Homo sapiens: one gene and its partner. The protein of the gene in region 1 purifies or fractionates together with the protein of each later gene. This does not show direct contact. Each region holds a gene or a part of one and is shown on either strand. Other genes may lie near its edges.

Region 1 (4,072 bases):
GCTCAGCAAATACTTCATTTTAACGCTATCCACTGCTACCCTATTCACAACCTTGGAAGAAATTATAAGCCCTCTTTTATGGTTCACTTTTCCTTATTCAAGTAATCTGCTCACTAGCTGTTCTTCTTTTATTTTTTACTACACGACAGTAACGAGTTGCAATGGAAAGGTCATCTGATCTTAACCCGAACTGGAATTATCTAAGAGCATTTTATATACAGAGATAAAATGGATTATTTTACAGAATTAATTTTACCCCCAATAATGCTAATACACTTTACAGAAGTACAATGTTACTATTTGCTAACTACAGGTAATCAGCTACTTCAAGGCAGGGACCATGTTTGCCGATTGGGATCATTAAAGCACACAACAGAGCACCATAGCATTTAGAATAATTAATATTCCTGAGATTGTCTTGAAAAGACTTCCATGTATCGCTAATAGGATTCCTAATGCATGTAAGTCTTTTGGAAAGTTAGTTACATCTTTAAGAATCTTGAGCAAATTCTGGTTTATTCACTAGATGGATATATGTGAGAAACTAATTTTTGATAAATCTGAGGATAAGAACTGTGTATTTAAAAAATTTTTAAAAACAGAAAAAATTGTGTATTAAATGTAATTACAATTATTTCTTTTTAAGAAACTGCAATGGAAAAAAAGACTGGAAAGAAATGTTAGCAGTATTTGTAGTTGGGTAATGAGACTATGGCTATTTTCTTTTCTCTGTATGCTAAATTTTACTTAGTATGCACTAGTTTTACAATGAAACAATTAAAGAAAAAAGAGGAAGGAAGGAAGAAAAGAAGGAAGAAAGGAGGGAAGGGAGAAAATAGGAAGGAGCACTGCTTAAAGGTAAGAAAATGGCCTAATTAGACCAGTTAGTAACCACTTAGTTAAATGCTATAATTAAGCTTTTACCCTAGCAAGGAACTTTCTAAGTGATCACAAATGATAACTAAGTCATATAATATCTGCACTGAAGGGACATCTTACCTAATTCTGTCATTTGACAGGTGTAGCAAAGAAATTATAATTATACAATGCTTTACAGTTTACAAAGTGTGTTCAAAATGTCACATCATCTGTCCTTCAAATACTCCTGAAATAGGCTCATATGCCCCATTTTAAGGATCAGGAAATTGAGGGTTACAGAGATAGTAATGTGCCTTAATAATAATGTCTATGATTTATCAAATGTTTACTATGTGCCAGACTCGGGGATAAGCACAATCTTGCGAAAATTATCCCTATTTTATAGATAGAAGGTGAAGGGGCCGGGCGCGGTGGTGACTCACACCTGTAATCCCAGCACTTTGGGTGGCAAAGGCAGGCAGATCACTTGAGCCCGGGAGTTCCAGACCAGCCTGGGCAACATGGCCAAACCCCGTATGACGGGGGGGGGGGGGGGCAATTAGCCGGGCGTGGTGGCACACACCTGTAGTCCCAGATACTTGGGAGGCTGAGGTAGGGGGATGGCTTGAGCCCAGGAGGCAGAGGTTGCAGTGAGCCGAGATAACGCCACTGCACTACAGCCTGGGCAGCAGAGTGAGACCCTATCTCAAAACAAAAATAAAAAAAAGGAGAGAAAAGAGAAAGTGAAGGGTAGCCAGGCACAGTGGCTCACGCCTGTAATCTCAGCACTTAGGGCGGCCAAGACAGGAGGATCACTTGAAACCACGAGTTGGAGACCAGCCTGAGCAACATAGCAAGACTCTGGCTCTACAAAAAATAAAAAAATTAGCCAGGGTTCGTGGTGTGAGCCTGCAGTCCCAGTTGCTCGGGAGACTGAGGCAGGAGGATCGCTTGAGCCCAGGAGTTCGAGGCTGAAGTGAGCTATGATCGCATCACTGCACTCCAGCCCGGGCGACAGAGCAAGTTCCCGTCTCTTTAAAAAAAAAAAAAGAAAAGAAGGAAGGAATGTAGGTAGGTTAGGTGACTTGCTCGAGATCATACAGCTAAGTCACTGCTCTGATTCTAAGCCATACACTTAAAACAGAAGTCTTGAGTTACCTATAATTCAACTTCACAGAGCCCTTTAGTAGAGTTGGCTTATTATCCAGTCCCATGTTCTCTCTTTTAAGAGTTAGTAAGTCTGACAGCCATTATGAGGGTCTACAAGCAAAAGCACTAGCCCAATCATACCCAAAAACTCATGTTGGCGGAGAGCCCATGCCTCAGATGAAAGGCGTGAATAACTAGAGTGGAGCGGACAAAGCTAACAAGTCTTATAATGTACACATTAAGAAGCAGAATAAACTTCAGAGTAAATACGCAGAATAAACTTCAGAATTCAGAGTAAACACTCTCTCCCGGAGCAGCAAGGATAACAACATCACGATATCAACAATTCCAGCACCTTACACTCCTGTAACCTAGCGCAATTTCCGGAGAGCCTTCAGGTTCATCTCAACGGATCCTCGCAAAAACCTGTGGCCTGGGCTGAGCAGAGCGGGAAATCAGTCTCACTTTACACAGGAAGCCGAAAGGAACGCCGAAGAAGGCCGAGTGGGCAGAAAAGCACGAGATTAAGAGATAGGGGCAGCCACCTGGGGAGACTGGGCGCCTCCACTGACTGGAGGAAGAACGCAGGGCCCGCTGCGGGGACAAGGCCCAGAGAGGCCGTGGTGCTGGGTCCGTCGCCCGCTGAGGCTCAGGGGCCTTGGAGGTCGGCCCAGGCGCCTATCTACTCACGTTGGACCAGCTGGTCTCCTGAGAAGACGGAGGAGCAGCTGGTGACTAACGCACAGGGTACGCCAGCAGCCATAGCTGCGCTCGCGAGCCGGTTCCGTCAGGCAGCCGCTTCCGCCTTGGGCTGCACCACGGCCGCCGGCGCGAGGGGGAGACAGGCCGGAGAGGGCGTTCTCGGAATGACCAGGCTGGCCTGACCCCGCCCCTAGACCCCCTTCCGCTCCCAGCGTGGAACAGGCCAGGTCGCGCGCGGTGTTGCCATGGGGACGAGCGGCTCCGGCTGAAGGTTTCCGTGCTTGGAAACCGCGCCTCCGCGGAGGTAGCCGTTCCCTGACCTAGCCATGGCACAGAACACTGAAAACCACGACCCTGTCGGATCCATCTTAATCCAGGTGGGAAACGGGCTTCCCCCGGCCCTGCCCTGCCCAGCCGCGCCACTTCCGAGCGAGGTCCCGCGCGCCGATTCACCGACGCTCACCCATTTGGTGCGCCGCCCCTAGACTCCCTCCAACTCGCGAGAGGCTCCCAAAAATGCCCACCCAGACCTTCCCCCACGGCCCAGCACACTCCCGGTGACTTACCCTGTAGGTTACGCCCCAGAAGCAGGACTTTCTGCCTCTGGGAAAACTCTAAAACCGTTCACCCGGAACCTTTACTTCAGAAAAATTAACCTCACGCTGAGGCATCATTTTTAAATGTTATATTCTGAAAAATTTGAACCCATGACGTCGGGAGTGGAGGAGAGACAAATCGGACACTCTAGGAGGTGATAAGAAATTTGGAGACAAATTGAAATATGTGAATTGCTTTTCTTAAACACCCCAGTTTTTTAGATCTAAATGTTCCTCATTGGAGAACACACAGAAAAATCAAGATAACTTGGAATGAAAAAATGTGACATTTAAAAACTTAGTGAAAGACCTTTTTAATTTGAGAGGGGAAATGTCAAGAAAGTCTTGTCCAATACAGCTCAATTTGTAATAGTTGCACTCAGATGTTTCTGAAATGATCATGGCATTTTGTTTTCACATTTATGTGAGGTAACTTTAAGATATTTCCACATATATCATCGGTTTTAACTATCACATATATAATAGCTGCATTTGACTAAGTCTTGAAGTCATTTGTCTAAGGTCACTCTGTCAGGACTGTCACTCAGTTGGTCTGAAGTGGGTCTTACTCGTCAAAGGGATCTAATTTTTCTGGCAGAATTTTGATCTCTTACCTCCCATCTAGGAGAGACTTCCCTAAATGTACCTTTTCCCAAATACAAGCCCCTGAACTCACCAATTTCATAGACTTCCCCATTAAGAATCATACCTAATCTTACCTGATCTTTTCTCACCCTCACTTTCACCATCACGCAGCAATGAGTTTA
Region 2 (5,472 bases), on another chromosome or scaffold:
TAAAATGGGCCAGGTGGCTGGGCTTGGTGGCTGATGCCTGTAATCCCAGCACTTTGGGAGGCCAAAGTGGGTGGATTATGAGGTTAGGAGTTTGAAACCAGCCTGGCCAAGATGGTGAAACCCTGTCTCTACTAAAAATGCAAAAATTAGCCTGGCGCGGTGGTAGGCACCTGTAGTCCCAGCTACTTGGGAGGCTGAGGCAGGAGAATCGCTTGAACCTGGGAGGCGGAGGTTGCAGTGAGCCGAGATCGTGCCATTGCATTCTAGTGTGGGCGACAGAGCGAGACTCCATCTCAAAAAAAAAGAAAAGAAAGAAAGAAAACCACAGACCAATATCCTTTATGAATATGGTCACAAAAATCATCAACGAAATACTAGCAAACCAAATCCAACAGCATGTAAAAAGGATTATACATGGTGACCAACTGGGAATTATCCCAGGAATGCAAGGTTGGTTCAACATACTAAAATCAACCAATGACTGGGCATGGTGGCTCATCCCAGCAATTTGAGAAGCTGAGACAGGAGGATCACCTGAGGCCAGAAATTCTAGACCAGCCAGGTCAACATAGTGAGACTCCATCTCTACCAAAAAATTTAAAAATTATCTGGGTACAGTGGCATGTGCTTGTGGTCTCAGCTCCTTGGGATGCTGAGGTGGGAGGACTGTTTGAGCCCAGGAGGTTGAGGCTGCAGTGAGCTATGATGGCACCATTGCACTCCAACCTGGGCAATGGAGCAAGACTCTGTCTCTAAAAACAAATAAATGTTACATACCATATTAATAGAATAAAAGGGAAAAAAAACACATGATCATGTCAGTTGAGAAAAAGCTTTTGACAAAATACCACTCATGATTAAAAAAAAAAAAACACTCCACAAACTAGAAATAGAAAGGAAGAAAGGAACTTCCTCATCCCAATAAAGGGCAGCTACAAAAATCCCACAAAATGTGATAGTTTAAAATATGTCCATAAATTCTTTCACATTCCTTTAAAACGTGGAGCCTTATTTGCCTCACTTGAGTATGAGCTGGACTTGGTGACTCACACCCAGGAAATAGAATAAGGCAGGCTAGTTGTGGTGGCTCATGCTTGTAATCCCAGCACTTTGGGAGGCCGAGGCAGGTGGATCACCTGAGGTCAGGAGTTCAGGACCAGCCTGGCCAACATGGTGAAACCCTGTTTCTACAAAAAATACAAAAATTAGCTGGGCATGGTGGTGCACACCTGTAATGCCAGCTACTCAGGAGGCTAAGGCAAGACAATTGCTTGAACCTGAGAGGCACAGGCTGCAGTAAGCCGAGATTGCGCCACTGCACTCCAGCCTAGGTGACAGAGACTCTGTCTCAAAAAATAAAAAAATAGAATAAAGTAGAATTGATGATATGTGAGGTAAGAGACTACTTCATAAGAGGAACTGTTTCTTATTTGCTCTCTCTTCATCTAGGGAACGATAGCCTCAATGTCATAAGCAGCCACCTATGAAGAGGCCCATGTAGCAAGGAATTGAGGCCTCCAGCCAAGGGCAGGTGAGTGCCCCATTTTGGTAGCACAACCTCTGGCCCCAGTCCAACCTTCAGGTGACTGCAGCCCCAGCCAAAATCTTGTTTGCAACCTCGTGAGACGCCCTGAGCCAGGCCCACCCAGCTGAGCCCCTCCAAGTTTGTTGTTTGAAGTTTTGGTGTAATTGGTTTCACAGCAATAGAAAGCATTACACAAAGTGTCTTTCTAACCTGAAGACTCAGAAGGTCTTGGGTTTCCTGTGGGTAATTGTTCTGGAAACCAAGGCAACAGGACCTAGGGCCAACTAATTTCTCCCAGTTACTAGCCGTATGACCTCATGGAGAGGACTTCACCTCTCTGTGCCTCTGCTTCCCTACCTGTGAAATGGAGATATAACTAACAACTACCTTCACAGGGTTCCCATTGTCCTTCCTCCTACCTGGAAACTGACACTCTCTCAACCAGGGTCTCCATCACCGCCTGGTTCTCTGTCCCCCTCTTTCCAGTTCTCTGTCCCCACCCAGCCCCTGTGTCTGTTCCTTCTCTCTCTGGGTCTCTATCCCCCTCCTCTATTTCTGGTCTTCTGTCTCACCCTGATTCAGCTCTGTCCCCCAAATCTCAGAGTCTCTGACTTATTTTTCCTGAGTCTCTGCCTTTCTACTCTTTAGGTCTCTGTCTTCTTTTTTTTTTTTTTTTTTTGAGATAGAGTCTCACTCTGTCACCAGGCTGGAGTGCAGTGGCACGATCTCGGCTCTCTGCAACCTCCACCTCCCGAGTTCAAGCGATTCTCCTGCCTCAGCCTCCCGAGTAGCTGGGATTACAGGCATGTGCCCCCCTCTGTCTCTGGGTCTCTGTCCTCCTCTCTCTCTGGGTCTCTGTCCTCCTCTCTCTTGGTCTCTGTCCCCCACTCTCTGGGTCTCTGTCCCCCTCTCCCTGGTCTCCCTTCCCCTCTCTCTGGGTCTCTGTTCCCCTCTCTCTCTCTGGGTCTCTGTCTCCCTCTCTCTCTGGGTCTCTGTGTCCTTCTCTCTGCCTGTCCCCGCCTTCTCTCTGGATGCAGCTCAGGTGCTGGGTGCTGGTTCCAGCTCCTGCTGCCCCCCTCACCTCTCCAGCAGGCACCCCAAGGTCATTACTTTTTCCATTTCACAGAGAAGGAACTTGAAGCCCGTTAGAGGCCGACACTCCCCTGCAGCCCCACAGCGAGCTGGCAGCTGTGTCAGACCTTGATCCTGGCTGCCTGGGGTACTTTCTCAGGCTTCACGATCCAGTGGGGGATGTGACTCAGAAATAGCTCTGGTGGGAGGCAAACGGCTGCAAGTGCTGCCTGAGGGACACTCCCCAAGACAGGGCGGAGAGCTCTTCTGTCTGAGGGAGGAGATGTCTCCCAGACATCCTTCCCAGCCCAGACTCTTTGCCCTGTTCTCTGCAGCTCCTCCTCCTTCCCTGGACCCTCGCCCAGGCTCCCCTCTGGCCTCCCTGCCTCAGTCTCTCCCCTCCAAACATCCCCCACTCAGCCCAAGGGAGTCTTGGGGAGAGAAAGCCCTTTTGCATTAGTGACAAAAGCAGCAGCCTTCTTGTCTTGGTCCTGCTTCTTACAACCCCTCCAACCTTGACCTTGTGGAGGTTACTACACCACTGTCTACCTTAGTTGTTTCTTTTTTTTTTTTGAGACGGAGTTTTGCTCTTGTTGCCCAGGCTGGAGTGCAATGGCACGATTTCGGTTCACTGCAACCTCTGCCTCCCAGGTTCAAGCGATTCTTCTGCCTCAGCCTCCCACATAGCTGGGATTACAGGCATGTGCCACCACGTCCGGCTAATTGTATATTTTTAGTAGAGATGGGGTTTCTCCATGTTGATCAGCCTGGTCTGGAATTACCGACCTCAGGTGATCTGCCTGCCTCAGCCTCCCAAAGTGCTGGGATTACAGGCATGAGCCACGAAGCCCGGCCTCAAATATTTTTTTAAAAAATTAGCTGGGTGAAGCCGGGAGCGGTGGCTCATGCCTGTAATCCCAGCAGTTTGGGAGGCTGAGGCAGGCAGATGACAAGGTCAAGAGATCAAGACCATCCTGGCCAACATGGTGAAACCCCGTCTCTACTAAAAATACAAAAATTAGCCGGGCGTGGTGGCACACACCTGTAGTCCCAGCTACTCGGGAGGCTGAGGCAGAAGAATGGCTTGAACCTGGGAGGTGGAGGTTGCAGTGAGCTGAGATCACACCACTGCACTGCAGCCTGGCAACAGAGCGAGACTCCATTTCCAAAAAAAAAAAAAAAAAATTACCTGGGTGTGTGGCATGTGCCTGTAGTTACAGCTACTCGGGAGGCTGAGGTGGGAGGATCACCTGGGCCTGGGGAGGCCAAGGCTACAGTGAGCCAAGATTGTGCCTGGACTGTCATGCTGTCACTCCAGCCTGGGCAACAGAACAAGACCCAGTCTCAAAAAAAAAAAAAAACCGAAAGAAAGAAAAAAATTTGTTTAGCTGGGCACGGTGGTGTACACCTGCAGTCCCAGCTACTTGGGAGGTCAAGGTGGAAAGATCGCTTAAGCCCAAGGGTTTGAGGTTGCAGTGAGCTATTATCATGCCAGTGCACTCCAGCCTGGGCAATAGAGTGAGACCCTGTCTCAAAAAAATAAAATAAAATAAAAAGAAAGAAAAAGAGAGGCCAGGTGCGGTGGTTCATGCCCGTAATCCTAGCACTTTGGGAGGCTGAGGTGGGCGGTCATCTGAGGTCAGGAGTTCGAGACCAGCCTGGCCAACATGGTGAAACCCCATCTCTACTAAAAATACAAAAATTAGTCAGGTGTGGTGGCGCTCTTGTAATCCCAGCTACTTGGAAGGCTGAGGTGGGAGAATCACTTGAACCCAAGAGGTGGAGTTTGCAGTGAGCCAAGATCGCACCACTGTACTCCAGCCTGGCTACAGAGTGAGACTCCATCTCAAAAAATAAAGAAAGGAAAAGAGATATTTGTTAAAAAGAATAAATGTGGCTGGGCATGGTGTTGCACTCCTGTAATCCCAGCACTTTGGGAGGCTGAGGCCCAAAAATTGCTTGAGTTTAAGACCAGATTGCACAACATTGTGAGACCCTGTCTCTACAAAAATTATTATTATTGTTATTATTTTTTTTTTGACAGACTCTCGCTGTGTCGCCCAGGCTGGAGTGCAGTGGCGTGATCTCGGCTCACTGCAACCTCCGCCTCCCGGGTTCAAGCAATTCTCCTGCCTCAGCCTCCACAGTAGCTGGGACTACAGGCGCCCACCACCACAGGCACACACCATCAGGCCCAGCTAATTTTTGTATTTTTAGTAGAGACGGGGTTTCACCATATTGGCCAGACTGGTCTCGAACTCCTGACCTCATGATCCACCCGCCTCGGCCTCCCAAAGTGCTGAGATTATAGGTCACTGCGCCTGGCCTACAAAAAATTTTTTTTTAATCAGCCAGGTGTGTGCCTGTGGTCCCAGCTACTCAGAAGGCTGAGATGGGAGGATCCTTTGAACCCAGGAGTTCGAGGCTGCAGTGAGTTGTGATTGTGCCACTGCACTCCAGCCTGGGAGACAGAGCAAGACCCTGCCTTAAAAATAAATAAACAAAAGCTGGGCGTGGTGGCTCACGCCTGTAATCTCAGCACTTTGGGAGGCCGAGGTGGGCAGATCACCTGAGGTCCGGAGTTCGAGACCAGCCTGACCAACATGGAGAAACCCTGTTTCTACTAAAAATACAAAATTAGCTGGGTGTGGTGGCACATGCCTGTAGTCCCAGCTACTCGGGAGGCTGAGGCAGGAGAATGGCTTGAACCCGGCCGGGAAGCAGAGGTTGCTGTGAGCCAAGATCACGCCATTGCACTCCAGCCTGGGCAACAAGAGCGAAACTCTGTCTCAATAAATAAATAAATAAATAAAATTTAAAAATAAAGGAACGAATGTATGCATCTCCGTTTTACAGATGAGGAAACCAGGGCTCCC

What was found. Proteins that work in one complex are often made in the same cells at the same time.
Region 2: the proteins of AAGAB (region 1) and TSKS purify together in Homo sapiens (affinity purification with mass spectrometry; one large-scale study listed by BioGRID and IntAct). This does not show direct contact.

Annotation. Positions count from the first base shown.
Region 1 is NC_000015.10:67,251,862-67,255,933, forward strand, and holds the start of AAGAB (alpha- and gamma-adaptin-binding protein p34), read right to left. Parts: upstream 2,801-4,072; 5' UTR 2,771-2,800; coding exon 2,698-2,770; exon of another isoform or gene 2,553-2,697; intron 1-2,552. Other genes in the region: IQCH (IQ domain-containing protein H), read left to right, coding at 3,036-3,086. UniProt on the Homo sapiens protein: May be involved in endocytic recycling of growth factor receptors such as EGFR.
Region 2 is NC_000019.10:49,755,706-49,761,177, forward strand, and holds part of TSKS (testis-specific serine kinase substrate), read right to left. Parts: intron 2,175-5,472; exon of another isoform or gene 1,450-2,174; intron 1-1,449. UniProt on the Homo sapiens protein: May play a role in testicular physiology, most probably in the process of spermatogenesis or spermatid development.